2 linked regions of the Homo sapiens genome follow. The protein of the gene in region 2 purifies or fractionates together with the protein of the main gene of each other region. This does not show direct contact. Each region holds a gene or a part of one and is shown on either strand. Other genes may lie near its edges. The genes, in order: NTF3 and DOK6.

Region 1 (3,828 bases), on a different chromosome or scaffold from region 2:
TTCCATCTTCCTTGCTTCCCTTGTTCTCCCTGGAGCACTATGATTGTAACCTGACTGCCTCCTTCACCAGTTTCCAGACCCCAAGGCCAGCAGCACTACATTCATCTCTGCATCTTCCCCAACATTTAGCACGTGACCACCAACAGACTGCTTAATGAATAATCTGTACACGTGTGTTTTGAGTTGCTTTCCGAGTGTCTAACGAGGAGTTATCCTAATGCGTATGCAATGACACCCGATTCCCTGTGACCAAGAGCCCCAATTTGCAGGAGAACTAAGCAGGCTAAGATGTGGGGAAGAAAGGTCTCTAAAAGGGAGTAAGAACAGCCTTTTCTGGCCACCAAGCGCTGAGCATTCATGACCTTAGCCTTGGGACAGGCCAAAAGGGGGATAAAGGTAACACTGTTTTGAAGCCCTGGCAAGGTGCACTGCCTCTCTGAGCCAAGTTCCTGGCACTGTCAAATCGCTGCTGCACATTCTGAGCTCACAATGGCTGGTCACGCATTCATTCACTCAACACATTCCTGTGGCTGTCGCTATTCAAGGTGGGGGACACAAAAATGAAAACAACAGATCCCTTTCTCTGTGAAGTCACATTCTAGGAATGCAAATTAAACACAGGCTGCTAAGTGGCATCAGGAGGCTGGGAAGGGAGCCTTAGGCTCTCTGGGGAAATGCAGGGAGGCTTCCCAGGTTAAGCAAATATCCCAGGTTAAGCAATGATTTTAATATCATTGATGATGATGGAGGGGTAAGCATTTGAAGCACAATATTTGTACAGAATATATCCTCCAATGCTATCTCCGATTCAAGAATAAACGTATCACTTGTACAGAACATTTCCCTCTATATTTAGGCCATTTGAGGTATCCCCTTCTCCATCCACGCATTTGTCCAGATTTTTCTACTAGCTCCCAATTCTCACAATTTAATTAATGATAAGTCAAGAAAGACCTTAGAGATAATCAAAGTCAGTAGCTCTTAATAGATGAGGAAGTGAGACCTAGTGTGGTTCGAGGACTTCCCAAAATTGTAATTAGCCTCTGTTGGAGTTAGAGGCGGGGTCTGATCTCTCTGCAGAGTTTGGGATCTCTCTGATTTAGCTTATTGAATTCAGCTACCCACAGACAACTTTAATCCCACATAAACCTCTCGCATACTCCCAACTTCCAATCCAAGATCCGCCACGAATCTGGCAAGCTTGTTTCTTCAGTGCTTCATAAACATGCACTCATCCGTATGTTCAATGACTTATCTGGCATCACATAACTTAATTTCCTCCTCCACCCCCTCCAAATCACTCTATGTAAGTCCTCTAGGCCAGCAGGGTTACCTGAAAATCCCAGGCATGGGCCACAGTGTGGGGCCGAGGGAGCAGCGGAGTCATGGAAGATGTGATCTGTCACACTGGTAGGGTCCTTGTGACCCTCTAGTGAGTCCAACTCCTCCCTTTTCCAGGAAAAGAGGCCCACGGAGGGAAAGTGATTTGCTTAAAGTCACACAGCTAGTCTGGGCTCTCTGCAGGGAGACTGTGGCAAGCTATTTAAGGTAGCCAGGTGGGTGTTAGGAGGACTGGGCTTCTTCCCCACCATGGGACACACCTGTTGGGAAAGCAGGTGATTTCTAGAGCTGTGTCTTCCTCTTGAACCCAGTGGAAGTACCTTATGAACCATTAGAAGCAGGTCCTCTAGATGTGGGATGAAACTAATCTCAGATTGAGAACTTGAAACAAACTCCCTGAGGGATCACTTAGAGCCAGAGAAGGATATTTTTAAATGCTGGGGTCTTAGATCTAGAAACAGAGGGAAGGGGGAAGTAAATTGCAAGAACCTGGCTATCAGTTTTTAAAAGGCTATATACTCCATATGAAGAAAAAAATTATCACCCTACACATGAAAGGTTATTTTAAGCAAAGTAAATACATAATTTTTGAGTACCTATGGTCTAATAGGCATTAGGTTAGTGTTCAACATTTATTTGTACATGCAAATATGTTTAAGCAACAGAACAAAGTCACCTGTCCTTAACTGTCTTGATGATGTATATGTGGTAGTGATGGTGAGGAAATCAGTGGAGGAAGAAGGAATGAGCCTTTAGTCACAATCTTCAAACAGGGCAACATCCACCCCAAGAACCTGTTTGGCTTCTCTATTTCTGGTACTGCCCAGAGAATGGTGTGCAGTGGCAAATCCTCAGCTGGAGGGCTCTACAGCTGCTCTGCTCTGCATCAAACACAGCCTGGGGACCTCAGTCTTTAGCAGTGACCCCTGCCCCCCAACCTCCCAGCAAGAAACCTACCTTAACTTTGGCCCCAGTCTAAATGGTGTGAGTTCCCTAGCCTATCAAAGAAAGCCATCTTCCAAATTCTAAAGATACCTCATGCTCTCCATTCATATTCTTTTTCACTTTGATTCTGTGCAATTCCAGGACTCAAGAATGCTGGGACCTACCACCTCTCGTGGGCGTGTGGATCAAAACCAGATGTCCAGCTCCAATTTTATAGAGTTTACAAGGAGGCAATTGTGGCTTAAATCAATATCCGTATTCTGTAAGGGCAGGTTCCCTTGTCAACAGAACAAGAAGTAAAGGGAGAGGGCCAATGGAGGCTGAGACAGATCTGACACATGCTTGCCAGCAGGTGGCTAGAAAACCTAAACATTTGTCTTGCACATGACAAGGAGGCTTCCGGGGGCAGGGAGCAGGTTACCCTATGGGGTGACCAACTTTGCAGAAGAAGATGGACCCAGCTCCCATCTGGATGACATCACAGACATAAAAAACAGAATCTGACTAGCAGGTGATGGGCTTGGGATGCCACAGACTTCAGGCTGGAAAGCCAAGAACATCAGCATACCCCTTAACCTCACATAACCTCAGTACCCCCATCTGTAAATGAGATTATTTTGAGTACTGAGATAATGCCATGTAATAGCTGTAAAAATGCCTGGCACCCAGTAAGTACTCTAATATTAACTGTCATCATCATCATCATCCATCATCTTAAAGATGGATGCTTACCTTAGTCAGAGACATTGCCACTGAAAGACATTCACGTGGAAGCTGAATGATTAGCATCAGACCTACCAGAAAGCCAAATCCCACCCCTTTCAGCTCTGCACACCCTGTGTAGGCTAAGCCAATGTTTAGAGCATTCTTGGCCAAAAGGAAACACTCTGGCAAATTTTTTGCACGCTTTTCTGCCTTTGACTCAGCCATTCCCCAAAGATAAAAACAGGAGCTCGTTAAGGGCGTGCCAGGGTGCACTCCAAGTGAGGTAATTAGCACTGATTAGGTAGGAGGATGTGGCTACTGTGGAATCCTACAGTGACAGGGCTGGAATGGGACTGGGAGATCTTCTAATTCAAGCCCTTCATTTACAGATGGCAAAGTCATGTCCTACAGAGAATGTCCAGGGTCACACAGTAGCAGCTAATTAGTGACAGAGCCCAGTCACTGAACCTGGTCCTTCACTTCTAAGTCAGGCAGCTACCTGCTGCCTCAGGCTACTGAAGGTCACCCTGGCCTGGGCTCTTGTTAGCTACTGTTTCCTCCAAAATCTCTGGCCTTGAATGTTGGAGAACCTTAAATCTTCCAACAAATCTCTGACTGAACAAACCCACAAAAAAAAATGGGGCTCAACAAATGTCTTCTCTGGAGATGTTACTAAAAAGTGAGCAATCACAACAGACCACACGAAATTTCACGTCAAAATCTGTTCTGTTTCAATGACATCACGGTCAGTCATAGGTTTGTCCTGTGAGGACAACCAAAGCTGCGGCAAGCTCTCCGTAGTTCCCAATTAATCCTATTTGAGAAGGACCATGGCAC
Region 2 (3,828 bases):
GGTTCGCCTGAATTTTGGCCATGCAGGCATTTTCACTCATCTTGATTTTTGCTTACAATATTTATGAGGTAACATGAAGTAAAAATGTCAAGTCAGCAGTTAAATAAAGGAGTTTTGTCTTTCACAGGATAAAATTGTACATAATCATGAATCTTATCACTTCCTCTGAAGGTCTGGTATTTTTTTGTGATTATCTTGAGAAAATATGCTTGCATGGCAAATTGGTTGTTTCTACCTTTAAAATGCAAAGTTATGATCCTTATGGTAAAAGAGCAATTGCTCCGAGCTGATGTGAGACTATGAATACATCTCCTGGGCGCCATGCTGCGCTGAGGATGATTACCATGGAGAGTTTCCTGGTCCTTGTTCTCCTTCTGCCCCACACTAGGTGAGTGCTCCTTGAGACTTATGGCATATAATTATAATTACAAGGGTGACTGAAGGATGCTTCTCCAGAATAAACGATGTATATCCATTCCTACTGTTCATGTCTACATGTCAGTTTTACAGCAGAATTTAACAATGCATTTGAAAAAGTGTGTCAATGAAAAAAGTATTTTGACATATCCAATTGTATTATTTTCATATGTATTATTTGTACTAATACTACTATTAGTGCATATAGTAGTATAAATAAATAGCTAAAATTTATACCAAGTGATATGCCTTGGGCAATGAGCTAATAAAACCTAGAAAGTGTTGGCCTTTGGCTTTGGTTTGCTAGCATGACTGGCCATGCCTTACCTGCCAATCTGCCCTCTAAATTGTCCCCAGTCTCATCACCAGTGACCCCATCAGTCCAGACCCAGGGAACACAATGTCCCACTTTTATTTCTCTAGATCAAGTATGGACAAGACCTTCCCCCACTGGCTCATTTTAACAACAGTGAAGTCATCTGGAATTTACAAAACAGATGCACAAAATTATGGACAATTTCTCAGTCACTAAAGAGCAAATGACACCCAAAATTCAGAGAAGGAGAAACACACAAATGAACTGTGTCCAAAGGACAGATCTCTAATCTCAAAGACAAGGAAATAAACAGAGGGAAAAAAATAGATACCAAATTCCTCTATGAAATAGAAAGATCTTAAAAAACTAATGTGGACAGGTATAAATGGAGTGAAAATTCTGAATAACCATTCTTCATGAAAGAAAATGACTTGTTATTTAAAATTTTGAGTGGAAGTCTATTGAAACGTTGTAACAGACAAAATAGTTAAATTGTTTTCCATAGAAAGAGGAAGATAGGTATATCTAGAAGGATCCAAGGGAAGGGATCCTGGAGGTAGTGCTGGTAAATGATGCAAAAACGAAAACAAAACCCCAACCCCGACAAAACCTTAACAACAACATTCAATTCATATATATATATATATATGTATATATATGTAAAACTAACTGATATGGTTTGACTCTGTCCCCACCCAAATCTCATCTTGAATTGTAGCTCCCAAAATTCCCACGTGTTGTTGGAGTGACCCAGTGGGAGATAACTGAATCATGGGGGCAGTTCCTCCCATGCTGTTCTGATGGTAGTTAATAAGTCTCACGAGATCTGATGTTTTGATAAGGGGAAACCCCTTTCACTTGGCTTCATTCTCTTCTCTCGTCTGCTGCCATGTGAGATGTGTCTTTCTCCTTCTGCCATGACTGTGAGGCCTCCTTAGCCACGTGGGACTGTGAGTCCATTAAACCTCTTCCTTTGGTGAATTGCCCAGTCTTGGGTATGTCTTTATCAGCGTGTGAAAATGGATTAATATACTACCTTTTTAAAGCCAGTAAAAAAATAAGGTGCATCATAGATTTTAGGTCAGTGAATCTCTAAAACATGTCAACTCATTTTCATAGTCATAATTTTTAAAATAGTAAACATATCTTAAAAATATTCATTTTCTTATTAGAATTTGTATTTCCCAATGGCTATCGGAATGTGATTACACTATTGCACTCTCAATATCTAGGTAGACAGAAATAGTTGAACAAGCTCATAACTACTAAGTAAACACAGGATCTAATGCTTTTCAGAGAAATCAGTGTGGTAGAGACTTTAATATTACTGTAGTGCAAAAGGGCCCCAGACTGGTAAAATTACTCCAGCTCAGGTTTTTTGTTTGTTTTTTCCCTCCTTAAAATTTTAAGAGACATGGGACCTACCCTAGCTGGCTAGATAGATATTATTAGAATGTGACATTGAGTAAATATTTAGCAGTTTTTAAGAAGAAAGTTATAAACTTAAAAATATTATATCAAATGCAATAAAACTTCACTATAATTGCCTTATAAGGCCATGAATTCATTTTAAGAATGTGATAAATCATGTACCCTGGGTGAAGATGGAAGCATTAAACATCTCCTCATATAAAATCCCCAAACCTAAGTCTTATCTTGGATGTGTGACAATACTACAATGGGGTCATAGCATAAAGACAATGATTTGGTTGGTTGTAGTTTATGTCTAAATCCGTGTTTATTAATAATGATTGTGAATCAAGGATTCATTTCAGACCCTTATGGATTCCAACCATATGCTGTGATCAAGAAAGCAGTATATTTGCCTAAAAGCAATATTTAAATTTATTTAAAACTTTAAAAAAAGATTGTTTGCTTATTAAAAAACACTCACAAAAACAATGCAAGCAAGGACATGCTGCCTTTAATTTTATGGAGGTCCTTTTGCATACAGGCACACCGAAAATATAGTATTGTAATAATCTTGCAAAACATATTACATTATTAAAATAATTACAAAACCAGTTTGAGTTTGATGGTAGTGTAAGAAACTGAAATTATTTTGAATGGGGTAATTAGCCTGCCAAAAAACTAACAGAATTGTATTCATGTTATTAAGAATCTGAAGAAATTATGTATTTGGTAACTTTTACCCTGAATGAAAACAGTGCTCACTGGGGGCAATGATGGACAGCACTCTCTTTCAGGACTCTGTTATACAGACTCTGTTATACAGACAACTCCTGCACTTGGCTGCTGCACTAGATCTTACCTTCCTGACTCAAACGTGAACCACGTTGAGTCCCGACCGTATCTCCTCAGTGAGCTGAGAGGCCACATCACCAGTTTGACCTTGGCATTGTGGATATCCCAGAGATAGATATTTTCATGAGTGATCTGCATTGTGCATTCACCATAAATATCCAGGTTTGGTGTAGGCATAAGATACACGTTGAATCTCTCTGTGAAGAGACGAAGAATGGAGAAGGTTAAGTGAAAAGAGGTGTGAGTGTCTATGGCCATACGATATTAATTTGTTTATCTACAGACTGCAGGAAACATGACCACATCCTCCCTAGGTGATATGGATAAACATTGTAGAACATGACATATTTCAAAATTTGTATGAGAAAAGGAGTTCATTAAAGTGTTCTGAATCATTAATTCATTCATTCACTCAACGACTTTTCATTGCATGTATTGTCTATGGTGAGGATTAAGTAGTTAAATTGTACAATGGAAAAATAAGGGCAAAAGTTAAGGGAGTCTCTGCCCAAATTGTGCTTATGGTCTGTTCCTTCACACAATCTAAGTGGATATCACAGATACGATTCCAGCGAGGGATGTCTTATTTGCTCTCCTTAGGCAAGATCTTATTTGATTTTTACCTTTGTTGATGTGAAGTATTTAATGCACCCTCAGACTGACTCACTAACTACTTAAGCACTGGAAAAATCATTTAGTTTGTATCTCAAAACAAATTGTAGTCATGGTCAAATTTAGCATATGATAATTGCAGATATTCATTACAGCCTTCCGCAGAACTTAAGACATTGCTTTGGTAAGCAAAATAAAAATACTTAACTTTTTTCATT

What was found.
Region 1: the proteins of DOK6 (region 2) and NTF3 purify together in Homo sapiens (co-immunoprecipitation; one study listed by IntAct). This does not show direct contact.

The regions. Positions count from the first base shown.
Region 1 is NC_000012.12:5,438,361-5,442,188, reverse strand, and holds part of NTF3 (neurotrophin-3 isoform 1 preproprotein), read right to left. Parts: intron 1-3,828. UniProt on the Homo sapiens protein: Seems to promote the survival of visceral and proprioceptive sensory neurons.
Region 2 is NC_000018.10:69,697,771-69,701,598, reverse strand, and holds part of DOK6 (docking protein 6), read right to left. Parts: intron 3,196-3,828; coding exon 3,006-3,195; intron 1-3,005. UniProt on the Homo sapiens protein: DOK proteins are enzymatically inert adaptor or scaffolding proteins. They provide a docking platform for the assembly of multimolecular signaling complexes. DOK6 promotes Ret-mediated neurite growth. May have a role in brain development and/or maintenance.